7 linked regions of the Homo sapiens genome follow. The protein of the gene in region 4 purifies or fractionates together with the protein of the main gene of each other region. This does not show direct contact. Each region holds a gene or a part of one and is shown on either strand. Other genes may lie near its edges.

Region 1 (3,500 bases), on a different chromosome or scaffold from region 4:
TCAGCCGGATGGCCACCTCGCCATGCCAGCGGCCGTGGTACACTTGCCCAAAGCGGCCCTTTCCAATGAGCTCGCCGATCTCCAGCTGCTCAAAGGGGATGTCCCACTCCTGAAGGAAGATGCTGGTCTGGCTGGCCTTGCGTGGGAAGCTCCGGGCCGAGAGGAGGGACAGGTTCATCTCCTCGAAGTCATCCTCTGACTCTTCGGCCTCATCATGGACCTCTTCATTCTGTGGCCGGAGTGGGAGAGAGGTCAGAATTGTGTCTGCCACTGCCCCAGCCTCCCTCATGGTCCTGCTGGGTCCCGTGCACATGCGTAGGTCTGGGCACATCTCTACATGCATTTGGAGCTTGTGCAGACATACGTCCCTCTGTTTCCCCAGCTCTAGAATCTGGTCTAGAATCATACTACAGTGAAGGTGCTGAAAGGGAGATCATGATCATCCACCTCTCTTGTGCTAAATGGGGGGATACTGAGGCTCAGAGAGAAGTGTTATAGGGATCGCCCATTCTAGTTTGCTGGAATCTTCCTGGTTTTAGCACCGAAAGTCCCATATGTTGCCCTGGGAAGTGACTCACTCCAGGTCATGCAGCCAGGCAGAAGAGGGACTAAGATCCAGGTCTCTGGACTTGAATATCCGATGGCCTTCCTATTCTTCCATAGTCTTTTGGTTTGGCTGTTTACGTGCATGTGATAAAGTTGACAGGCTAGACAGGCTAAAACAATGGGTACATCGTGCATCTGCATGTAACACATGACAACTGCCAACATGGAGTATCTTTTGCTTCCCCCAGGGAATTTGGAATTGATGATTCAAAAACTGGGAGAGGTCAGAGCTACAAGCTAGCTGTCTGAGGCTCCTACAGCAGCTGGGAGGGTAGGAGACATGAGAGTGAGGGGTTAACAGAATGGGCTTAACAATCAGACAAAGAGAGCTGAAATCTGGCCTCTGTATGACCTTGAGCCAGTTGCTTTACTTCCCTGAGGCTGCCTTTCCTCATTGTAAAGTGGGGGTAATAAAATCTGCCCCAGGGCCGGTGTGAGGTTTTAGATGAAGGCCTGTTAAGTTCTTTGTACAGACCTGACCATCTGTATTAAACACCGACTGGGAGGCCCGAGAAAATGCAGATTCCTGGGCCCCACCCAGCACTATTGGATCAAAATATCCGCAGGCCAGGACCAGGAATCTGCATTTTTATCATGCACACACACGACTCAGGCGTACTTCGGCGTAACTACCACTAGAGTTAAATGCTCAAGGTGTAGGGACCCACCTTATCAGCATGATATCTAGGGGTGCTTGGGGGCGAATTGCCTCTTGGATTCTCCTGCAGAATTGTGGGAGCAGCAGGTGGCCAGGGCCAGCGGGGATTCCCAGAGACCCTGGGACCTGATGAAACAGCCTGAGAAGGTGGCTTCTTGACTGGGTACAGCTCTTCCTGACCCAAAATACCTGGGCAAGCTGCCCCTGATGGCACATTCAGGAGAAACAATACAGGGGACATTGATTTCTCCCGGGATCATTTTTCAACAACCAAAATAGTCCCAGAAAAGAACACGATTTTCCTTGGAAGCCCTGACTCAATTCCTTTCAGTATGAGACCCAGAGCAGTTGCAGAGCTGAGGGGCCAGGACTCCATGGTTTCCAGCCAGGGCATTTCATGTATTTCTGCAGCCACTTAGGCAGGTGGGAAGAAGCCCCAGAGCATTCTCAACACTTCTAAGCCCAGCATCCCTGAGGCCCCCACCTCTTCCCACATATTCTTTTGAAGGCAGCGGGGCACATCCCCCTTGGTATTCACCCGGCCCTGAGCTGATCTTTCCACTAAGAATGCAAATCTCTTGACAATTTCCACACAACTGGCTTTTCCATGATGCATGCCATATAATGGCCCATTAGACTCAGTGCTGGGAGGGACCACTGCTTGCTAATTGTCCCAGAGTTAGAATATCCATCAGTCAGGGCCACCACAGCCCCCACCTGACCCCAAGCCCTCTGCGTCATCCAAAACGTCAGTCGGCTTTGCCAAGTTCTGGGCAGTCCCTGGAAAATGTCGCTTCACTGCTCTCTGATTCTCACCTCCGACGTTGGCTCCACTTCAATTTGAAGTAATGGATTTCCTTCCAAGCTGTAAAGAAAGAAAAATAAACGTGATCCCTAGGTGAAAAGGCAGGTCTATATATTGAGTTTAGCTATGTACGAAGAATCCCCAGATCGGAGGTCTTTACCACCAAGTCTTTATCTCACATTTCATTTCAACAGGTGTGTCTGAAATAATCCATAACCTCGACACACACACACACACACACAGACACACACACACACACACACACAGACACACACACACACACACACAGACACACACACACACACACAACACAGTGCGCAAGGACCTTGTTTTAAGTTGATTTTCCGGGCTGCTCAGGGCTCATTTTTCTTCATTGCTTTGGTTTCAACTTATCTAGCAGCTTTCTTATAAATTGGCCTAAATGCCCTGGGTAGATAAGTCCTCAGAGCTGTATATGTTTGCCAGGAAAGAATTAATCAGATCTCCGAAGTTCACACAAATTTGGAATTTCTTGGAAGGATCTCAGTGTTCTTGTTTGTCTGTTCATTCATGCATTCATGCGACTATTTAATAGATGTGTGTGCCAGGAACAGTGTTAGGCCCTTGGAGGGATATAGAATTGAAACTGGCACGGCTTCTGACCTTCAGGAATATTGTGTTCCTACTGAAGGAACTAAAGCCAGTATGTAGATACTATGCAGGGAGGCTAAAAGTAATAAGGCCAAAAGTTAGGTGTGAATTGGATAAATGGAGTGTCGTGGGAATTCCAAGATGAGAGAATTACTGGGTGTATTTGAAAGTTCCCAGTGTTTGAGGTAGGTCTTGCCAATCACATGGAATTAGGATGTGTGGAATGAAAATAAAAAGACCATATTGAGCTGGAAGACACAAGTGTGTGTGTGTGTGTGTGTGTGTGTGTGTGTGTGTGTGTGTGTGTGATGCATTCATAAGCTCATGAGCTGCAGTTCTGTTCTTAGTAAGCAAACATGTTGGGTATAGATGCTGGCGGGGCGTCACAATTTGTGTGAGCACTGCATAGGTATTATGGGATGTGCTTTGTGCAGGGTTGTCTTGTGTGCATGTGAGTTGGGTGTACACACAGGATGTTGAGGGGGATGCTGTATGCCGATAGTATAATTGGGTGTGCATTAGAGGTGTGAGGGGACTGTCAAATGCATGTGACATTTGACATGTGATGGATGTTGGGTACAGTGTGCATTAGAGGTATGTTGCAGGGTTTAGACTTGAGGATGTGCATGTGTTTTTGAAGTGCAGCAGGGAGACAGAACTGGGCTATTGAAGGCATGGAAGAGCTGAGACAGGTGAGAAAAAAGAATCACAATGAATACCCCACCCCTCCTTTCCTATTTCCCCAGTAGATTCCCCCTTCCCCATCCTCATTTGGGGGACCTCCCCTATCCTGACCCTCAG
Region 2 (4,054 bases), on a different chromosome or scaffold from region 4:
TGTCATAAAGGTATCTACAAAATGCTACAGATGCACAGTAGCCCTAACTCGGTCAGGGGAGGTGATGAAGAGAAGTTTGCACTAAATCTTGAAGGAAGAGTACCTTTCCTTAGAGTGGGCAGATGGGTATGCTCACTGCACACAGTGGAAACATCAAGTACCAGGATGAGAAGCACAAGAAGCATGTACAATTCACAAAACTGCAAGCTGTTCCTTCATATATGCCTATCATGTACCACTTGGTGTATACACATTATCTCATTTGGGCCTTACAACACTCTGGGTGGCTAATAACTTCGGTTTTTTGAAAGAAGAAACTGAGACTTAGAGGGATGAAGAAACCTGGCTAGCCAATACCTGAAGAGTGAGATTTAAACCAGGTCAGCCTGACCACAAATAACTTACTCTGCAGCAGACTAGAACATGTTGACACGCTGTATTTGACAATTTTTCTAAAAGTAACTGTGAGCCAAGGAAGGGTTCTAATCGGCAGTAAAATGATTAGATCTTCATCTTGGAAAGAATCATTCTAGCAGAAGTACAGAGGACAAATTAAAAGGTTTAAGGCCTAGGGGACAAAGCCCATCAGCCACCTGTTTCACTAATTAAAGTTTTACTGAAAAACAACACCCATTCATTTAAGTATTTCTATGGCAGCTTTTGTATTACAAGGGAACAATTGAGTAGTTCCACCCTTAGGACTACAAAGCTGAAAACATTCACTATCATTTACAGAGAAAGTTTGCTGATCCCTGTTGAAAGCAATATTTACTATAGTAATCCAGGCAAGAGATGATGGGGACTGAAGACAATGCAGTAGGGATGAAGAAGCATTTGAAAAATGTAAGCAGAACAGATCAGCAGTGTGACCGACTGGATATAAGAGTAGGTAAGAGAGAAGTAGCTAAGACTGCTCCTAGGTTTCTAGCTCTACGGTCTGCTGAGATGGTGGAGCTAGGATGTGGTGCTGAAAATGATCCCAACTCATGTCCATGTATTAACTTCTGGAAGGGATGAATGTTACCTTACATGGCAAAAGTGACTTTTCAGATGTGATTAAATTAAAGATCTTGGGATGGGGTGATTATCCTGGATTATCTGTGTAGGCCCTAAACGCAATCGTAAGCGCCCTTATAACAGAGGAACAGAGATAGACTGACACAGGAGAAGGCAGAGACTGGAGTTATGCAGCCACAGGCCAAGGAATGCCAGCAGCCACCAGAAGCTACAAGAGGCAGGAAACAGATTCTCCCCTAGAACCTCTGGAGGGAGCAAGTCCCTGCTGACACCTTGATTTTGGCCCAGTGAAACTGATTTCAGACGTATGGCCTCCAGAACTGTGACAAGGTAAATCTCTGTTGTTGCTGGGCTTTTTTGTTTGTTTGTTTAAGACAGAGTCTCACTCATGTCACCCAGTCTGGAGTGCAATGGTGCGATCTGGGCTCACTGCAACCTCTGCCTCCCGGGTTCAAGCGATTCTCTTGCCTCAGCCTCCCGAGTAGCTGGGATTACAGGCACCCACCACTAGGCCCAGCTAATTTTTTTGTATTTTTAGTAGAGGCGGGGTTTCACCATGTTGGTCAGGCTGGTCTCGAACTCCTGACCTCAAGATCTCTGTTGTTTTAAGCCGCCAAGTTTGTGGTAATTTGTTACAATGGCAACCTTAGTTACAAGAATGTTCCATCTGTTAAATCCCTGATTGTACTGCACTAGAAGGGGGCTGAGAAGCTGAAAGATGTGGGTGAAGACCAACAAACATGGGATTTAGGGAAAGGGAAAAGAGGAATTGACAGACCTGTGGAGTCTGGAGGTTGGGGGAAGAAGTCAGGAGGTCAAAGTGATCATTACAGGTATACTCATCTGGGAACACCAGCTACAATGTGGGGATGATAGGTGACAGAAACAGACCAGCGGTCCAGCTTTTCTAGGCCAATTCTTGGATGGGGACATGAAGCCTGTGGAGAAAATGAGGTGGCCACAGGAAGGAGCATAGATGATGTTGAGGGATGCAGTCTGGCTTCATGGTTAAAAGCAAAGGCTTTGGGATTAGAAAGACATGGATCTAGCTTCCAATTCCACACCACCTACTAAGCGTGAAAGATTCGGACAAGTTTCATTCCTCTTAGAACCTCAATTATCTCATCTGTTAAATAGGATTATTAATATCCATACCTCAGATCAAGTCAAACAATTACTGTAAGCACATGGTGAGTGCTTAAAAATGTAGGTGTCATTATTACCACTATTGTCATCAGTATTATTAATATGAATATGACTGTAGCTATTACAGCATTAGTCTCCCTACCCTTAGGTACGGCCGCATTTCTATTATTTTTTTAGGAACAGTGTGGCAAGCAGAAGAGTGGCCAGAACGGTGCAGAGGTTTGAGCTGTGGCACCCGGCGTGACCTCTCATTCCCGGCCGGGTCCCGGTGACAGATCCGCCGCCTCCACTCTGCAACTCCTCGCCGCAGTGAGACGCTGCCCCGCTGCTGGCCGGCCCGAGCCCCCTCCCCAGCGCCGGCCTCACCTTTTCATAGTTCTGCATGAGGCGGCTGATACTCTCGCGCTCGACCTGCCATTCGGGTTTCTTCAGTTGCTTCCTCAACTGCTTCTTTTTGTTCTGCCTATGGCTGTGTTTTTTCTTCCAGCGATTGAAGCTCCGCACCGGGTCGGGTCGGGCTCCCGAACCCGGAGAGTTGGCCGTTTTGCCCATTGCGGCGGCGGCGGCGACAGCTCGGATCAACCCCAGACACGAGACACCTAAGGCCAGACTCACGGAACCAGCATGGGACAAACGCACAGAGGCGCATGCGCGAACTCAGAAGCCCGCCCCCGAGCTTTTGAAACCGGGGCACGCGCCAATGACGTCAGGAAAAGGAGGGCTGTGATTGGCGAATTGGCTCCTGCTGGGAGGGGCAGCCTGGGGAAACGGGGGCGCAGCACTCCACGGAAGGGGGCGAGCTGAGCCGAGCCGGGAGCACGCCGGCTCTTTAAAAAAAAACGCATGCGCACTGTTGTTGTTACTATGGTGACGTCATACACTGACCCTTTAAGGGCTATTAACACATTTGCTCCAGGTTCAACTTTGCTAAGCGTTCGTGAGTATGTGTGTAAACACATACAATCTGTGAATGAAAATTGTGACCCTCGTTTTGCACTTTTCGGGCCAACGAGCCAAAAGATTTGCCCAGAAGTAAACAGCTAGTTAGTGACTTCTGATTTCCATCCATGGTGGTTGTACTTCCTCAGGAATAAAAATGAATATTCTATATTCTTCTTATGCCCCTCTGGGTTTTCCTTTTCCTCTGGGCCCCTCAGACTCTAGCTGCAACAGCAAGGAAACTGGAACGGAATCAAATTGAATTTGCCTTAAAATGCTTTTATGGAGACAAAATGATAACTAAACGTAAGGAGGTAGGTAATAGAGGCCGGGCACGGTGGCTCACGCCTGTAATTCCAGCAATTTGGGAGGTCGAGGTGGGTGGATCACCTGAGGTCAGGAGGTCGAGACCAGCCTGGCCAATATGGTGATGCCCTGTCTCTGCTAAAAATACAAAAATTAGCCAGGCGTGGTGGTGCACACCTATAATCCTAGCTACTTGGGAGGCTGAGGCAGGAGAATCGCTTGAACCCCGGGGGCGGAGGTTATAGTGAGCCAAGATCGCCCCACTTCACCACAGCCTGGGTGAAAGAGTGAAACTCCGTCAAAAAAAAAAAAAAAAGGAGGTAATAGAAAAGTTATTGCAAGTTGGACATTTAAGTGAACTGGCTTTCAATGAATTGAATTTTTTGACACATTTACCTACAGCCTCCAGGAAAACACCGGATGTGGGTGGGAGAGCTTAGCTGTAGCAAAGGAGATTGGAAAATTGAGTTCAAAGTTCACAGGCAGAATTTTGGGCTCTCAAATTTCCTTTCCAACCCCACATATCCAGATCACTACTCTCAACTCTATGCCCATCCTCCAAACAAGACATGGCTTATTGGAAGGGAGTGAGGACAGGAGGTGAACAAGAGAATTTCCACACTCAGGAACACTAGATGTGGTAGAC
Region 3 (3,500 bases), on a different chromosome or scaffold from region 4:
TTACTACAAGAAGAAAAATAGTTGAAAGCTGTATTTTTTTTTTTTTGGAGGAAAACAATATCAGCTACACATTAAAAAGTGAAATAATAATAGGTGATATTTATTAAGTTCTTACTCTTCCACACACTATTCTGATGATTAAGCTAATGTCACAAGGTTAGTAATATTGTCCAGACAAATTCTAGGTCTCAAACTAACTACTATGCTATGCCACCTCATTAAGAAATTAAATGTCCTAAGTGGAAAAAAAAATACGTGTGTAAAAATCATGTTATATTACAGGCTACAGTAAAAAAAATTTAGGACTGCAGTATCTTTATAGAAACATCATGAAAGGGAATAACTTATATTTTAATAAAAATATTATTTGCATGTTATATGACTGTTATATGACAACAGTAATGCTGCTCTCAATTTCAGAAGCAAGTCATGAATGATAAATAACACATCCATGGAGCAAACAGAGGTATCTGAAATCATTATAATTATCATTAAAATATTAAATCATGTATTAAATTCTGTAAATGGGCAAAGACAGTATTTCAGTCACTATTGCTGAACCTAGCACAAAGTAGGCAGTCAATGGTATTTGTTAAATTGTAATGAAACACTGATTTAAAACATCAAACCTTTAATAATCTTATTTTCCCTTTTGAATTTAAAAGGACTTTGGAAAAAAACAATTTGGATGGTCAAATATTTTTGTTTGCTTTTTAAAATGCTATACAAAGAAGTGTGAGCTGCCACCTTTTTCTACTGATAAATGTTTACATAATGGATAGAAGTATTCAAAATCATGTATCCAGCCCTCTAGCTACATCAATATTAGATATTTGCCATATCTATGGGAGATTATGGAAGTACTTTTAACCCTAAAAATCATTTCTAAATGCTAGCACTAAATTATTGATTTGCCTTTCCATCTTTTACCTTCTTCATGTATAGAAAATCTTCATGTATGGAAAATCAGAAGCTCCCTAGTAATAATCTCATTATTATTATTTTCTGATGGATCTCATAGACCTTTATTAGAGCCTTCTCTATAGCAATTCTTTACAGTTATTAGGTCATTAGTACATACTTTTCAGTGAGCATTTATGAAGCTGTCTAACATGTGTCAGGATCACATGCCACCTTTCACATATGTGATGCCACCAGCAACAACTCCAAAAGCAAACATATAGTTATATCTCACTACCTGTGGGGGATTGGTTCCAGGACTTCCCCAACTTCTCTGCTGATACCAAAATTCACAGATGCTCAAGTCCCTTACATAAAATGGTGTGGTATTTGCATATAACTTTCACACATTTATGCATATACTTTAAATAATCTCTAGCTTACTTATAAGACCTAATATAATGTAAATACTATGTAAATAGCTGTTATACTGTACTACTTTAAAATGTGATGTTTTATTGTTGTATTATTATTTATTTATTTTTCCTTGAATATTTTTGATCCCAGGTTAATTGACTCCTCTGATACAGGGGACCAACTGTTATTTATAGACAACCCTCCAAATAAATATACAAGGGCAGGGAGAAATGAGACTTAAGTATACATTAGGAAGTAGTAGATGAGGATAAGGTGACAGCTATATTATTTTCTAACTAAAATACTTACTTGGATTTTACATTCCACAACTGCAGGCTTCCTTGTTCACTGCCCAGAAGTATTTTATTCAAGTAGGTACTTGGATGCAAAATTGCAGAAATTTTAAATACTGATTTATCAAAAGTCAACTGCAGGTATTCTTCTACAAAAGTGAAAGTTATAAATATTTTTTATAAAATAGTTTAAAATGTTTTATGTAACCATATATTTATCACTTAAAGTAAGTCTATCACATCAAAGATTTATATGTTAAAATAAACCACAGACTTAGATACTAATCTATAAACATTCCTTGAGAAATAAAATAAATGAGAGGCAACTTGTAAATGTAATTTAATTTAGACTGTCAAAAATTTTCTGTAACTTCTAATAAAAATACTATTAAAAGTTTCATTCACTTTTGAATTACTTTACAGAAAAGGATAATAAAGTTAAAAAAAAAAGATCCTAAGGATTAGCATTCATGTTTCTGTAATTTGATCAACAGACAGGAGTGAATATTCCAAGTGAAGTGCTTATACTTAGCTCTTTCAGGGAACGAAGAGCCAATTATCTGGAAAGTTTGATGGGCCACTCAAAAAATGCCAAAAATAAAAGACACACCTCAGTGAAATAAGAGTACTTCTCACACATTTCCACAAAATAATCTCTAATAAAGGAGAAAAAAAAAACGTATAACCCTGTGGAGTGGGGGGTGGCATCACCAGTGGTCACTTGCTCCAAGATAAAAAAATTCTCTGAAATCTTTGGTTACATTCAAAATTTCTATGTTTGAATTCTGCTTTTCACTTTACAGTTCCTCCATGATTAAAACAATGTTCCACTCTATTTTCCAGTAAATTTGTGTATCAAAGAAGGTACATTTCACTTAATCTTTAGGTTCACATACTATCTGGCACACTACTGTACAATCCCAGGGTATGGGTACCACAGTTTAGGATGTACAGGTATAGGTGAAAATTATATAAACTTTACTTTGAATGCTATTTTAAGAGATCCTTGCCTTTATTCGTCAGTCACTACAAATGGCTCCCTGAATATACTGGTTCAAGAGAGTCTGCTGGAATGTAAGAACCAGATCCTGTAACCTAATAAAAGCCCTTTTAACTTCTATCTGCACAGGGAATACTTTTGGAATTCTGTTCCCTCCCTCTACTTGAGCAAAAACAAAACAAGAAAAGGGTTACTAATCTGAAACAAGAACCTGGAATAATTCCCAGAAATGCAATCTTCAGGATATTTACTGAAAAAAAAAAAAAAAAAAAAACAAAAAAAAAAACAAAAAAAAACCAAGAGGCAATATAAGCTAAAAATGTAACCAGATTAAAGAACTTAAAAGATTCAATTCATGATGAACCCAGTATTTTATTGAGGAAAGGTGTAGATATCCTAGGGATAAATTCTTCATGTTTAAAGATACATAATCCCATAAACATAGCCACTGTCTAAGCTATCACAGTTGAAAGAAACTGACTCATATCCCTAGGAAATGGATGTATATTTTCCTTCAGATTACAAGATCAAGTTTACTATTACAGTCTCCTTTACTAAAAGGTGAAAATACAAACCAAGAATTACTCAGGTATGAAAATACATCAATATTCACTCCACAGGGAAAACAATACAACAAATCATTAAAGTTGGAGAACTGCAATGGAAAATACATTAGTTGAGGTAAGCACATTAAACAGTTTATAAGTAGTTAACTTGCTAAAGTTGTTTATCTCTTTCTTACTTAGAACTTTTTTTCTTACACGTTAAAGATTTTTGATTTTTTTAATTTCTTACTATTTACAGGCAAAATCTCTGGCATAGATGTTTACATAGATTTTAAATTTTAATTAAACACATACTACCCTAAGATAAAGCAAATAAATGAGTTA
Region 4 (3,500 bases):
CTAGCCCTTACCTCTACTCTGAACTGGACTTGTGTATCCAACTGTTTCTTGACATCCCCGCTTGGATGTCTGATAGGCATCTCAAACTTAACTTGTCCAAAGTAGAACACCAGCTTTCCCCCCACATTTCCCCCTCCTGCAACCTAGTGGTCTTCCCTCCCTCAGCCAGTGGCAACTCCATCCCGCAAGCTGTTGATGCCAAAAACACTGGAGGCTTTTTGTTGTTGTTTCTTTGCTCTCATACAATCCACTAGAAAATGCTGTTGCTTCTATCTTCAGTATAGATCCAGAATCCAGTCACCTCCATTACTGTCACTGATTCAAGACACTGTCACCCCTGACTATGCAATTGCAGTTATTGCAGTTGACTTCTAAGCAGTTTCTCAGTTTCCACCCTCTACCCCTTTATTCCACAGTCTGTTATCAGTAAGCTGCCAGGGTGATCCTCTACTCAGAACTGTCCAGTGGCTCCTGCTCTCTTGGGGGTGAAAAGCAGAGTCCTTTGAGTGACTTTTAAGGTCCTACTTGATGTTGTGCCTTCCTGCCCTCCTCTCTGAGCTCAGCGGTCACTGTTCTCCACCTTACACTGGCCTCACAAGTCTCACTGCTCGAGACCAGGCACACTCCTGCCGTAGGACCTTGGCACAGGTCCTGCCTGCCTGCTTTTTTCCCAGATGTTCTCCAGGCTTTGCCTCCTCATGCCTTTCAGGTCGTTGCTCAAGAGGACCTTAACCTTATTCAAAATTATAATTCTCCACCAACACTTCGTCTCCTTTTCTTGCTTTATTTTTTCCATGGCATACATAACCATCTGACATTCTAATTGTTTTACTTCCTTATTTGTTGGTGTTCCCTCACTTGAAAGAAAGCTTCATGAAAGGAGGGGTTTTTAGATTTTTAAATTTTTTTTTTTTTTGAAACAGGTTTACTCTGTTGCCCAGGCTGGAGTGCAGTGGCACAATCATGGCTCACCTCAGCCTTGACTTCTCTGGGCTCAATGATTCTTGCACCTCAGCCTACTGAGTAGCTGGGACTACAGGTGTGTACCAACATGCCCAGCTGCTTTTTTTTTTTTGTAGAGACAGTGATCCCACTTTATTGCCAGGCTGGTCTCGAACTCCTGGGCTCAAGTGATCCCCTTGCCTCAGTGCTGGGATTATAGATATGAACCACTGCACTTGGCCAAGAGGGCTTTTTTTTCCCTCCTGTTTTATTTACTACTGCTATACCTAATTACTGGCATTTAGTAGTACTAAATAAATATTTGTTTAATGTATTGATGAATAAAGTTAATTTTCATTTTCAGCTCCATCACACTTTTGACTTGGGGCTACGATTTTTATTCACACAATTTGACCTACAGTCTCCCATTCTGGAGTTAATCAGCTTTTGTTGTATTTTTAATGCCGTTAAATTTATTTTCGTTAGTTTTCTAGTGGTTAAGCCTGTTTTTTTCTTTTTTTTTGGCGGGGGGGGGGGGGGGGGGGACGGAGTCTCTCTCAGTCACCAGGCCGGAGTGTAGTGGGAAGATCTCAGCTCCCTGCAACCTCCGCCTCCCGGGTTCAAGTGATTCCCCTTCCTCAGCCTCCCGAGTAGCTGGGATTACAGGTGCCCACCACCACACCTAGCTAATTTTTTGTATTTTGGTAGAGACGGGGTTTCACCATGTTGGCCAGGCTGGTCTCAATCGGCCTCCCAAAATGCTGGGATTATAGGCGTGAGCCACCATGCCTGGCCAAGTATCAGCTATTTGGTCAGTTATTTATCTGGTTTTATTCCTTGTAAAAAATATATTTCTATAAGAAACATTCTCCTATAAATGTTTTACTTTTTAAATTCTCACTTAAATAGATTAAATTGTTCCATATATTTAGTTATAACCCATAATATTTGAGGCTTTCTGCTTTCCTTTAGATTGCTTAGATGGGTTAGTTTTTCTCTATGTAAAAGATTGTAGTTCAAAAAATTTCTTATCTGGCCGGGCCTGGTGGCCCATGTCAGTAGACCTAGCATTTTGGAAGGCAAAGGTGAGAGGATTGTTTGAGCCCAGGAGTTTGAGCCTTCGGTGAGCTACAGTCACATCGCATCATTGTACTATAGACTGGGCAAGCATGAGACCCTGTCTCTAAAAAAGTAAAAATAAAAGAAATTATCTAATGTATGTAAGTATACACAAGAAAAAAAATCCAGGAGATATTTAATACGTTACGAGTAGAGTTAGGATTAGAGAATATTTTTTGCTTCCTATGTTATATATTCCTATGAAGTTTGAATTTTTAAATATAAGCATGTATTGATTTTGCAAGCCGAAAAACAATTTAGCTAAATTTGTTTTAAAATAAACTCTCTTCATTTTCTTTAAGTGGCTTTCTGATAGGAAGAAGAGAGCGCTACAGAAGAAAGATGTAGGTGAGTATTGTTTTTTCCCACTTCAGCTGCGTTAGTGATCCATGTTCTAATGCTTTTACTCATTTGCTGTTATATATAAGTGAGGATTTATAAGAATGCGGTAACATGTAGTGGAAAATGAATGCTCTTGTCCCTTTTCTTTTTTTTCCTTTGACATGGGGTCTCACTGTGTTGCCCAGACTGGTCTCTAACTCCTGGGCTTGAGCAGACCTCCCACCTTGGCCTCCCAAAGTTTTGGGATTACAGGCATGAGCCACTGTACGCAGCTCTTCTCCTTTTTTTTTTTTTTTGAGATGGAGTTTCACTCTTATTGCCCAGGCTGGAGTGCAATGGTGTGACCTCGGCTCACTGCAACCTCCACCTCCTGGATTCAAGCAGTTCTCCTGCCTCAGCCTCCTGAGTAGCTGGGATTACAAGCCACCACGCCCGGCTAATTTTTTTTGTATTTTTAGTAGAGATGGGGTTTCTCCATGTTGGTCAGGCTGGTCTCGAACTTGCGACCTCAGGTGATCCACCTGCCTTGGCCTCCCAAAGTGCTGGGATTACAGGTGTGAGCCACCGCGTCCGGCCGCCTTTCTCCTTCTTAAGAAACTTTTTGTTGTGGTTGGTATGTTCCTGGTGGGTATGGGATTTGATTTTACCTTATTAACTAATAAGTTAGCCTGTTACCGTTTCATGGATAACAATAGTAGACGCAAGACTCCTGGGCTAGAAATGCAGATGTTATTACTCACAGCACAGTAGATAGCATGAACATCAGCATATTTGTGCCAGTTCCCCTCTTGGGTCTCCTGGGGACACTTAGCACAGTCCAGGTGGATGCTTGGCACACAGTGGATTTGCGTTGTGGCCGAGCAACACAGCTTGGGAAGTCCACTGCTTTTCTGGCAAGCAGTAAGCAAACCTGTGTTTTGTCCAGAAGGGACAGGTTACCTGTCTATCAAGGTTCTCAGCAGTGTAAACAACCCTGAGAAATGGCTCAGGTAAGAGTGGCTGGGGTCTTGCAATCTCGCCATACCCAGTAAGCATGCAGGTCCAAGGAGGACTGTCTCTCCTAACAGGTCCCTAATTGCTTTGCTCTCTTGTGTATC
Region 5 (4,211 bases), on a different chromosome or scaffold from region 4:
TAATGCCATTATGTCCTGAAACAGCAGAGTGCTTAAACATGCTGATTCTTTGGACAAGATAAAAAGTAATTCAGGAAGCATTTACCAGGCCATACCTGATCTTTTCCTCGATCCCCAACTACAACAAAGAGAGATCTTTGCCGCTCAGCTACTCCATTCTCAATGAGAATCCGGATTCGGTTATCCACCTTTTTCCGATGCATGGTGAAAAATTATTACTAAAAGAGAAAGAAATACAACTGGCCATGCGCACTAGATTGTCTAAGGAACATTAGCTGGCTGCCTTTTGTGGGGCCTGGGACTGTGCTAGGCATATCTATAAGTATTGTCTTACTTAACCCTCTACGAGCTCCACAGGAAGACATCAGCCTCTAGTTTTAAACTCAGGAAACCTTAGGCTTGGGAGGTGAGAAAACCTTCCCTCAGCCTGGAAAGCCTGTAATTCACCTCTATTAAATATTTTTTAAAAGCCAGAAACTTGTATATTCAAAAAAGTAGAAGAATGACTAAAATACATAAGGAGATATCCAAATATCCAAAGCATTGTTTGTTTTTGAGACGGAGTCTCACTCTGTCGCCAGGCTGGAGTGCAATGGCATGATCTCGGCTCACTGCAACCTCTGCTTCCTGGGTTCAAGCAATCCTCCTGCCTCAACCTCCCAGGTAGCTGGGACTACAGGCGCATATGTTGGCCAGGATGGTCTCGATCTCTTGACCTCGCAATCTGCCCACCTCAGCCTCCCAAAGGGCTGGGATTACAGGTGTGAGCCACCATGCTGGGCCAAGCATTTTTAACAACTAAGGATATGGATATAGATGCTTATGACAAGATCATGACAGAATAAAGTATGATAACATTTCTTATGCATACACATAACAGAGGGAAAAATAAAAAAGACTGGAAGGAAATACCAAAGTATAAAGTAGCTACTTCTGGATGGTGGGACTTTTATTTTGTTCTTTTGTTTTTGTGGAATCTTAAAAAATTCACGTGTTACTAATAAAGTCAGGGAAATCAATAACCATCAATGAATAATTCCATGATGTAATGTGTCCAACTGTTTCCTCATTTTAGGGAAAACGATATTGAAGCCTTTGTACAGACAGACCTCAAAAGTTCTCGCCGGGAGTGGTGGTTCATGCCTGTAAGCCCAGCACTTTGGGAGGCCGAGGCGGGTGGATCACCTGAGGTCAGGAATTCAAGAGTATGGCGAAACCCCGTCTCTACTAAAAATACAAAACTTAGCCGGGAGTGGTAGTGGAGCTGCAGGAGAGGCTGAGGCAAGAGAATCACTTGAATCCGGTAGGCGGAAGTTGCAGTGAGCCGAGATGGTGTGCCATTGCACTCCAGCCTAGGCGACAGAGTGAGACTCCGTCTCAAAAAAAAAAAAAAAAAAGTTCTGTGATTACCTACAGTAAAATACTGCATCATCCCAATAAATACATCAAAAAAACCATCAGAAATATCACTGTAAAAGTAACATGCTACTTAGATGTAAAAGTGACATGCTACTTAGAAACTCTGGTACCTACTGCATTATAAACATAAAGCTCATTTACTGAAACTTACCATACCTTAACTGTCCCTTCTAACCTTCCAATCCAAACAGATTTTAGCATATGTCTTACTATAAAACACTAAGTCACTGTCAAGGACCCCAATTTATACGTAAAGGAGAAAGTATAAAGAATTCAAATATCCCGAGGCAGAAAAACGACAGACAGAATTCACACTCAAGTCTTCCTGACTCCAAAGCCTGAGCTCTTCCCAGTTCGCCAATCTTCCCAACTTGTAAACCTTGTGTTGCCGGCCACATAAAGATCCCGCAAAAATCAATCAACAACTAATTAATGGGGGCTGCCTTTTGCTCTAGCTACTGTGGGAGCCCCAGAAGTAGTACCACAAGGCCCTTGACTTCAAGCTTGCATTCTTCTTGAAGAAGGTATTTAAGAGAATGAGATGAGGAACAAGAACACAGGTAAAATTAGATGTAAAAAAAAAAAAAATAGCTATACTGAGGGACCGGTCAGATGAAGGAAGGGCTGAGATTACTATGGGCTGAAGCTGTCATGGAAGGCCTGGATGGGGAAGGCCTTGAAGGAGATGATTATTTTTCGCTCACTCATTCGTCTATCTACACATAACATCTATGTGGCAGGCACCATTTTAGGTGCACTGGCAAACAAAACCAAGTCCTGAATGTGACTGCTGAATAAAGAGTATAAAGGAATGTGCACAGTGAAGGATTTAAGAACGTGGAAGGATCTGGAATCAGATTACCCTAAGTATAATGCCCAGACCTGCAGCCAGGCACTGCGGGCAAGCTCCACGGAAAACAACTGTTGTCACCCACCCATTCACCCCGACTCCCCAGTTACAGGCACTACTTAGAGGTGGTTATCGAGCCACGCAAATCCCCGAGGACGCTCGAGAAGCACGCGCCGAGAGCGGCTGCGTATTGGAGAGGTGATTCTGTTATCTTGGAGCGCCCCAAAAGAGGGGTGGAGGACAAACGGCGTAGGCCAGGTATCCGTCCGGATGCAGAGCCTTCATCCTGAGGCCGGTCCCCTCTCGACCCAGGAAGAACACAGACACCGATCTTGGCATCCATACCCGGCCCTCCCGCGTTGGGTACCTGCGCCCCGAGCCCGGGGGATCCCAGCCAGTGGAGAAGGGGAAGCACGTGGGAGCACGGAACAACTCCGAAAGAGAAGGCACAGCTGACTGCCCCTAGCGTATGCCTGGTGTCCGGGTCACGTAGTAAGCCTGGCTCCGCGGCACGCGTCCCTCTCAGGAACTGGTAGACAGCACGTGCGCAAGCGCATTAAAGTCGCAGAGATGGCGAGCGAGAAGGGACCTTCCTCAAGGCTGTCGCTGAGTAATGACGTAAGCCACCAGAAGCGGAGCTGAGGCCTAGATGTCCACTGCGGTTGCGCATTTTAGTCCCACTGCTCGCGGTAGCTGGGTGTTGGCTGCGGTTTGCCTCTTCACTCTTCATATCCCAGCTAAAGTACCTCGGCTAAGAAGGGCAAAATAGATGTCCGCACCCCAGGGCCTGCCCACGTAGGTCCAGGGTTTTCAGCGTCAGCCTGGTTACGCGAAACGCGACGGATCCAACGATTTGTGTTCAATTTAACCGATCCCCGTTAAGTTGAGGAAACTCGGCCAACAGACCTATTTTATTGGTTTCGCTTGGCCCTCCACCCCCACAGTACTGATCTTACAGATGGGAATCCTGTAATCTACCCATGACTGCGGCCGCTGTACTTTGCAGGCTCCCATTAGGCCTGTATATGGTCGTCAAATGAAATTACTCCCCCTGGGCTTCCAGTGAACTCCAAGAACATGACTACAGGGACAACCTATACATAGTGTTGCATTCTTGACTTTGGGGCAGATCGCTGAACTTCAAAAAACATTATCAACTGCTTGATGTTTCCTCCTGGATACCGCAAATGTCTGAATCCAAACCCCTTCCCCAGATACACTTTTAATGTCATCAGCAGCACTACCCATTTAATCCAACATCCATCATGAAATTTTTTAGTTCATTCAGCAAAATGTGAATATGCCCACGCACTATTCTGCTCACAAGGGATAGTGTCCAAAATGTTCCTGCCCCTCGTGGTTAATTCTAGGTTAAGTTTTAAATGCTATTAAGCAGAAGTATCCAGTGAGTAAAGTGACTAAGGATACTATTTTAGAAACGAACACTGAAGGCCTCTGACGGGGTGACACTGGATGGAACAAGGACCTGAAATTTAGAAAGAATGAGCCCTGAGAATATGAGTGAAAAACTTCCCCGTGCCAAAGATGTACATACAAAAGCTCCAAGATGGGGGAGTCCTGGCAAAGCAGTCAGTGTGGCCAAAGCAGTGGGCAAGTGAAGGACCAGATTTAGAATTTAATTCTAGTCATGATGAGAAACCACTGGAGTTTGTGGGGGACAGGGAAATGAGAAAATCTGCTTTGCCCTCTTAAAAGGCTTCCTGTTATGCAAAAACTAAATCACAGGAAGGCAAAAGTAGAAAAAGGAGAACAATTATAAGCTATTGTAGTCACCTGTGCTAGGATGGTAGTTGTGGTAGTAGTTAGAAGTATAAGATAACTCTGGATATTCAAGTTAGAACCACGTGGACTCACTTAAGGATTAGATGCAGGTTATAAAAGTACATTGAAGATGGCACCCAAAACATTTGCTCTGAGCAAC
Region 6 (4,055 bases), on a different chromosome or scaffold from region 4:
CTGCATTTTTCCCCCGTTCCTTTTTTGTATCAGTGGTACACCAATAATATGCCCTAAACATACAGCCTAGAAACTTAGATTTTCCCCACCCCTTCCTTGCCTTCCACTTGCTTAACTGGTTGTAAAATCATAATGATTCTTTTTCCAACATTTTCTTTTTCATTCTACCACCACCCTACCCATTATTGATTGCAAAAATCATTACAAAGACCTACTAATTGGTTTCCCAGACTCAGTCTCTTGTTTCTAATGATCTTTCACAGCTATGAGATTAATCTTCCAAGAGTACAACTCTAAATCCTTCATCTCCAAAAATGCCCCACTGCCTATGAAACGAAGACCAAATTCCTTGACCCAGCACTCAAATCCTTCATAATCCGGCCCCAATCACCTTACTAAACTTTTTCACCACTCTGCTAAGTACTTGCAAATCTCCATACATGCCCATGTTTTCCAGTTGGCTTTTTTTCATGCTGTTCCCTATGCCTAGAAAGTCCTCCCCTCCCATCATATCTGAATGTCTAAATCCTTCTAAAGTCAGTGTTCAAGGTTCAGCTCACATGTCTTCCCAACCTCCCCAGCCAAAAATAAAATGAAATAAATCTTCTCTAATCCATCCTAATTAGAAGTAATCTCTTCTCCCTCAGTGCACTCTGAATGTAACTTTCTTAGGTCCCTGTTCAACTTGTAATAAATTTATAATTATCTCTTTAATAGATTATAGACTCTTGGAGAGGACAGACTGTTAACCTCCAGTGCCTTACATTTACAACAAATAGTAACTATTTATGGAAAGAGCAAATGGAATTTTGTAGAGTAAGTCTAACCCCTTTTCCACATGACAGCTCTTCAAATCATTAAATCTTTCAATTATTATCAATAATAATCACTACATTAATTACTAATGAGTAATAATTATAGCTTACATTAATCACTAATAATATAGTAATACAGTAATAGCTACATTAATACTAACAATAATTAGCCACATTACCCCTCTTATAACAATTGCTATGATTACATTCACTCTCTCTGAGGATCTTAATAGATTTCAGTTAACTAAGACCTCTGGGCCTCTTTTATCACCCACCCTAATCCTGTAAAGTTGGTACTTTAGGAATCTAAGAGCAGGACTTTACTTCTACTCCTATTAAAGTTCATCCTGTTACAGCCAGATGTGGTGGCTCACACCTGTAATCCCAGCACTTTGGGAGGCCAAGGCAGGTAGATCACTTGAGGTCAGGAGTTCGAGACCAGCCTGGCCAACATGCTGAAACCCCATCTCTACTAAAAATACAAAATTAGCCGGACATGGTGATGCGCCTGTAATCCATTACTTGGGAGGCTGAGGCGGGAGAGTTGCTTGAACCTGGAAGGCAGAGGTTGCAGTGAGCCAAGACCGCACCACTGCACTCCAGCCTGGGCGACAGAGCGAAACTCTATCTCAAAAAAAACTCCATCTTAAAAAAAAGATCTCAAAAAGAAAAAAGTTCATCCCATTAGTTTCAGTTCCAGTAGCCATCAATCTGCTTTAACCACTGTTTTACAAATCTGATAAACATGGCTCACAGCAAGAATTCTCAACTCCTCAAGACACACATATGTGTTCCAGGCATCCTTCCCTAAGTGTGCGCCCACTGATGCATAAAGTCTACCAAGATTGTCGTTAATATACTTTAACTTTAACCTAGGGCTTCCTTAAAGTCAGCATCTGTGGCAGAGAACAAACCCTTTCAGCTATTAAGACAGAAAGTAAGCTCAGTAAAATTGGAGAATGACATTTTCAAATACCATTACCCAAACTTTGTACCTTTAGTGACCATATCCTTATTTCACTTGAAGTATGCAAGCAACAGCTTTCAAAAGGGGTATCTAATTGAGATAACTTTATATTAAATCTGTACGAAGTCATACAACCTACCTTGTAAGGCCAAAGGAATAGCTTCAATCTGGATCTTGGTGGGTTTTGTCCATCCCAACTGGTCACAAGCTTCACACAACACATCTGTCACACCCTTGGAATTCAGAAAAATATACCTTAGCCAAGAACAGCACACCCCTACCTCCCTCCTACTTAACTGACTGTCAGACCCATCATGTACAACCATTGTATTTGATTTAAAAGGTATTTACTGTGCATCTCAGAGCCTACTCTTTAACTATACCATGAGACAGTAGCTCAAGACTTAACGAACACTTTCTGCTCACCAAGGCCAAGGCCAGGTGCTTTACATGTATCATCTCATTTAATCGTCACAACAATTCTGCGAGGTAAGTACTTATTACTATCCCCAATTTACAGATGTGGAAAGAGAAACACAGAGAGGTAACAACTTGTCCTCAGTAAGAGACTGTGTCAAAATTCAAATCTGGTTGGTTCATCTGACTCCAAAGCTCCAGTTATAAAGAGACCAATTCCATTCCCCATATGTACAACCTCCTGGATGCACATACAAACGTTGCCACACTAAAGTGGCGAATAGGGCAAATAGGGGGTCTCAGGGCCCAGCAGCCCTCCCACCACCCAAACTCAGAGCACGTCCGAAACCCAGCCCTCTGAAATTCTGGGGAAAACCCAAGCTAGGCCCCAAGATGCTTTTGTACACTATCAGAGCGGGATCTAAGGTACCTGGGGTCTCCCTGAGCCTAGCACCAGAGTACATAAAAGAAGCCAGCGTCATCCATTCTCACCAGGTCTTTAAATGTTTTAGTTTCCTCCTCTTCCACAATCGGCTGGGACGCTTCGGTCGGAGAATCGTGTTCCTCGGGTGCCGCCATCTTGTGTGAGGTCTCCGGAAGTGGGTCTGCGGCGCGCGGGATGCTGGGAAATGTAGTTTTAGTTCTCCCCGGACGACGTGCTCTGCGCGCCCCCTGCGGGCTTGCCGGGGATTGCACCCGTCCGCTAGGCAGGTGGGGCCCAGTGAATATGGGCGCGTAGGCTTGCGGAATAGATCCGAGTGCAGAAGGGGCTGATCACCAGGGACTCCAGTTGACCTTTAGGTCCCTTTTAAAGAGCCTTCCCTACGTGTGTCGCCAGTTATGTTCCCCGCTTTTCTAACCATAGAGTTTGGAACGGATTGATATTACAATACTATTTTTTTATTATGTCATTACTTTATTCAATAATGTTGAGAACCTACCATTTGCTAAGGCTATGCTAGATGGCTGGTGAATAGGACAGCGACCCCTGCCCTCGTGAAGAAAAAGAAGACAGATCATAAATAAGCTATCACAGAGCATTTCAAATTGTGAAAAGTAGCTGGGTGTGCTCACGCCTGTAACCCCAGCACTGTGGGAGGACGAGGCGGGCGGATCACTTGAGCCCAGGAGTTCGAGACCAGCCTGGGCAACGTGGCGAAACCCTGTGTCTGCAAAATGCAAAAATCAGTCAGGCATGCATGGTGGCATGCGCCTGTAATCCCAGCTATTCAGGGGGCTGAGGTTGAGGGATCAGTTGACCCCGGAAGTTGAGGCTGCAGTGAGTGGAGATGGTGCTACTGTACTCCAGCCTGGGCAACAGAGTGAAACCCTGTTCACATAAAAATTACAGAGTAACCTGGGGAGGGTGGGTTGTGGGGATAACTGTGAGATTGGGAAGGCCTCTCTGAGACAGTGATATTTGAGTTAAGACCTCACTGTTGAGCAGGAGAAAACGCTTTAAGATCCCAGGAGATAATCATTCCAGAGTGAGAGAATTCCAAGTACCAAGACTGTGAAGCTACTAAGGCTATTCTGGAAAGCAGCAAATTCAGAGCTGTATGTTGCATGCCCCATGGCCAGCGAGTGCCCTCCTGTGGCCTGTCACTTGGGTCTCACACTGCGCAGGGTGCTCGTTGCAGTTTTATTCCTGAGGATGGGAAGTTGGGGGCAATCTGGTGTCCGTCACTGGGAAAATGCATAGTTAAAATGTGAACATGGTGTCTACAAACATGCCCTTAACAATATGATTAGATCTGAAAAACCTAGTGCTTAGTGAGAAAAGCATAAAATATATCAAGTATATTAAAATATAGGCCCACAGATATCACATTCTGCTAAAACACATCCAACAGAAG
Region 7 (2,986 bases), on a different chromosome or scaffold from region 4:
ACTCTACTATTTTCTACAAACTCCCTCAGTAACTGACCAAAGATCAGCCTTATGTTCATGCTATTTCAGAAAGAAATGAAAAACATTCAGAGAAGTGGAGATAAGAATAATCTTGCTGATGTGGAAAGGTTCTATCTTGCTTTTGATTACAGCCAAGCTCAAGTTTCTTGAACCACTTATGCCACCTGGTGGCCAGCCCAGATAACACTAATAAAACCTAAAATTCATGTGTTAATATCTCAATCTGTATTGTATTATAACAAATCATACAGGAAGTTGTGGCAACATGGGTTGAAAGAGTTGATTATACCAGCCTCGTCTCTCAATACTTTTTGTGACGTAACCAATTTTTAGTTTTTGGGAAAAATATATTATCAAAGAAAACAATACAAATGTTTTGCACTTCCAAAAAAAATTTCCCTTTTCACCAACCACTCACCAAAAATATCCCAAACCCAACGACTCCAGTCGTACAATACATGTGCAAAAAGGGGCTTTAATTCATAAGCAAAATCAATTTTATTAGTAAGGCTCTTTCCACATGTCCAAAGCAAACAATTAATGAATTCCAGGGAAAACCACCTATATACAATGAAATTAGAAGTATCTCAGGATGACAAAAAATATACAAATATGTACACCCATAATCACCGCCGCCTCCGAAAACCTGAAAGGAAGGGAAACCAAGAATGAGGCAAAGGACAGTTGGAAAAGCTAAAGGGACAGGAAAACAGGACATCTAGAGGGAAGGGCTCACAGGGGTGGGGTCTCCTAGGCAGTACCCTGAATATCTTCCCAGGACAAAAGACGAGAAGTAGGAATAAAATTGAAATGGGATAATGGTTCCTTCAAGTGACACTTTACCAGTTCTATTTAGGGAAGCCTGAACAGGAGCTGTGGGACCTTAGAGGCAGAATCCAGAGATTCATTTTGTGAATGATGCTGATTTCCAGCTCAGGAAAGCAAAAAATAAAAGCCCACCTAAGGAGATTATTGCCCAGTATGGAAGAGATACTACAGGGCTTGGTGAGACCCAGAATGGCAAATCCAAAGAGACTCAATTTGTACTCCCCACCTTGCACCTGATCACCTAAGTCCCAGCAGTTCACTGACCTTTTTTCTTCCGACCTTTCTGAGGTATCTTCTTCCGCTTCTTAATAGGATTCTGATCCTGGAGACAGATGGAGAAGTGATGGAATGGCACTGTGGTTCTGAGAGCCAGCATCCCTTCCCAAGTTCCTCATGGTAATAAGCCCCACATACATTTTGCTGAAAGCATGAAAGTCACATCCTACTACAACCATATCTCAACCTCACCTCATCAAGATGAACAGTTCCCCCTGTCAAAGCACTGATGTCACTGAAGTGTGTAAGGGAATGAAGTTGTGAGCTCATGACATTTGCTCGTTTTCGCCGTCCTTTCTCTCGCTTACTGACGCTCAAACGCACCATCATGCTCTCCTCATAGTTAATCCTGCCAGAGAAAGACAGTTTCCAGCAGGCTCAGACCATGGAGATGGAAAGCTCCAGCCCACAACCTGGGCCCAAGTATCTACTCATCTCTTGTTCAGGGAGTTCTCAAGAAGTTTCACAGCAGATCAACATAGTATTTAGTAAGGACATATTGAATGCTCAATACTGAGCTTCCTCAATGAAATGTGCTCTGTGCTAGAACTTCCCTCATGCTAGATATGAATCCATAGCCTATCCACAATATTATTTAAAATATTACACCAAAATTTTTTTATTTCAGCTCTATAAGCAGGTTTCCCTAAACGTGTCCTTTCATGCAAATCCATCAACTGCAAAGACTGCACCTGAGCAAAGTTGACGAGTCTGTATTCAATTACACTGCTTTTCTACTTTCCTTCCCTGAACTTATCTAGCACTCACAATGTCACTATAAAAACCTACCTTTATTGCCTTCTGCACAAAAGTGAGAGCTGTGACAGTGAAACACAGAATCTTAAAGTTGTACTATGTGGAACTGCATACATTCCTCTTTGTACTGCTTTTTTCCCCCTCAAATCTCATGTCGAATTGCAATGTACTGCTTTTGCTTTGAACTAAACAGTTGGGGTAAAAATTTTCCTAGTTTCTATCCTGAACTCCAAACTCCTGATTCTTAGAAACTATCATCCCAAAGTTTTCACTCCATTTTCTATGTAACATTAATTCTCTTGGTACCAAACTTAGTCACATTAGTATAAAGCATGAGGACAGGACTCTAGAGTGCAGGAATAATTTCTAATGCAAGGGCTCAGACCTGTGTTGGTCCTCCTGACTCTGGCGGGTAACATGGGGATGCCGAGCATCACGGATTTCCTCTGGAGCATCTGAGTACTGCTCCTTAAGTTCACGAATGACAGAGCTGCTCAATGCCCGTCTCTTGGCTCGTTCTAGACGCTTCTTCTCCCGCTCAGCTTCTGTTTCATCTACATGATGAAAATAAGCAGGGTTATCCAAGAACAGAGAAAAGAGAAACAGTTCATGCTGAGGAGGCAGCAGCCAAAGTTTATACCATAATGTACTGGAACCAAGCGTGGAGGAACATATTTCTTAGACACTCCCTTCACAGATTTCTTCCCTGAAGCCTCAGACTGGTCATCTTCTGCTTCATCTTCCTCCTCATCCTCAGAGCTCAACTACAAAAGAAACAATGTCTGCAAATTTAGGAAGCATTCATGAGATAAGTGAGAAGAAAACCCAAAGCTGGAGTACCCTGGGGTGGTGGGAATATAAAAAGGGAAAAAAGGGAATCTCAAACTCAGCATTCTAACACACAAGTTGGAAAATCAAGTCCTAAGAGAATCCCAGGGTATCCAGGATCACCAAGAGGCTCATCTAGGTATAGCTGCCTCAGAAAAAAATCAGGAGAATACTACAACCCCTTACCTTGCTCATCATATTGCTGGGATGAGGCTTAAAACGAAGTGGGTCATTCTCACCTGAAATAAATAACCCAATGAATTTTACAAAATTTGGA

The links.
Region 1: the proteins of NOL10 (region 4) and KSR2 purify together in Homo sapiens (co-immunoprecipitation; one large-scale study listed by IntAct). This does not show direct contact.
Region 2: the proteins of NOL10 (region 4) and DDX10 purify together in Homo sapiens (co-immunoprecipitation; 2 studies listed by BioGRID and IntAct, with this or other methods). This does not show direct contact.
Region 3: the proteins of NOL10 (region 4) and WDR36 fractionate together in Homo sapiens (co-fractionation; one large-scale study listed by BioGRID). This does not show direct contact.
Region 5: the proteins of NOL10 (region 4) and NAT10 purify together in Homo sapiens (co-immunoprecipitation; 3 studies listed by BioGRID and IntAct, with this or other methods). This does not show direct contact.
Region 6: the proteins of NOL10 (region 4) and DDX47 purify together in Homo sapiens (co-immunoprecipitation; 3 studies listed by BioGRID and IntAct, with this or other methods). This does not show direct contact.
Region 7: the proteins of NOL10 (region 4) and NGDN purify together in Homo sapiens (co-immunoprecipitation; 3 studies listed by BioGRID and IntAct, with this or other methods). This does not show direct contact.

What each region holds. Positions count from the first base shown.
Region 1 is NC_000012.12:117,524,991-117,528,490, forward strand, and holds part of KSR2 (kinase suppressor of Ras 2), read right to left. Parts: intron 2,130-3,500; coding exon 2,081-2,129; intron 717-2,080; coding exon of another isoform or gene 708-716; exon of another isoform or gene 584-707; intron 230-583; coding exon 1-229. UniProt on the Homo sapiens protein: Location-regulated scaffold connecting MEK to RAF. Has very low protein kinase activity and can phosphorylate MAP2K1 at several Ser and Thr residues with very low efficiency (in vitro).
Region 2 is NC_000011.10:108,663,815-108,667,868, reverse strand, and holds the start of DDX10 (probable ATP-dependent RNA helicase DDX10), read right to left. Parts: upstream 2,801-4,054; 5' UTR 2,716-2,800; coding exon 2,530-2,715; intron 1-2,529. UniProt on the Homo sapiens protein: Putative ATP-dependent RNA helicase that plays various role in innate immunity or inflammation. Plays a role in the enhancement of AIM2-induced inflammasome activation by interacting with AIM2 and stabilizing its protein level.
Region 3 is NC_000005.10:111,098,848-111,102,347, reverse strand, and holds part of WDR36 (WD repeat-containing protein 36), read right to left. Parts: intron 1,760-3,500; coding exon 1,627-1,759; intron 4-1,626; coding exon 1-3. UniProt on the Homo sapiens protein: Part of the small subunit (SSU) processome, first precursor of the small eukaryotic ribosomal subunit.
Region 4 is NC_000002.12:10,683,476-10,686,975, reverse strand, and holds part of NOL10 (nucleolar protein 10), read left to right. Parts: intron 1-2,363; coding exon 2,364-2,409; intron 2,410-3,500.
Region 5 is NC_000011.10:34,104,218-34,108,428, reverse strand, and holds the start of NAT10 (RNA cytidine acetyltransferase), read right to left. Parts: upstream 2,801-4,211; 5' UTR 2,637-2,800; intron 219-2,636; 5' UTR 204-218; coding exon 96-203; intron 1-95. UniProt on the Homo sapiens protein: RNA cytidine acetyltransferase that catalyzes the formation of N(4)-acetylcytidine (ac4C) modification on mRNAs, 18S rRNA and tRNAs.
Region 6 is NC_000012.12:12,812,091-12,816,145, reverse strand, and holds the start of DDX47 (probable ATP-dependent RNA helicase DDX47), read right to left. Parts: upstream 2,801-4,055; 5' UTR 2,779-2,800; coding exon 2,692-2,778; intron 2,016-2,691; coding exon 1,922-2,015; intron 1-1,921. UniProt on the Homo sapiens protein: Required for efficient ribosome biogenesis. May have a role in mRNA splicing. Involved in apoptosis.
Region 7 is NC_000014.9:23,475,688-23,478,673, reverse strand, and holds the end of NGDN (neuroguidin), read right to left. Parts: intron 2,949-2,986; coding exon 2,896-2,948; intron 2,646-2,895; coding exon 2,522-2,645; intron 2,436-2,521; coding exon 2,267-2,435; intron 1,475-2,266; coding exon 1,318-1,474; intron 1,172-1,317; coding exon 1,114-1,171; coding exon of another isoform or gene 1,106-1,113; exon of another isoform or gene 668-1,105; coding exon 648-667; 3' UTR 501-647; downstream 1-500. UniProt on the Homo sapiens protein: Part of the small subunit (SSU) processome, first precursor of the small eukaryotic ribosomal subunit.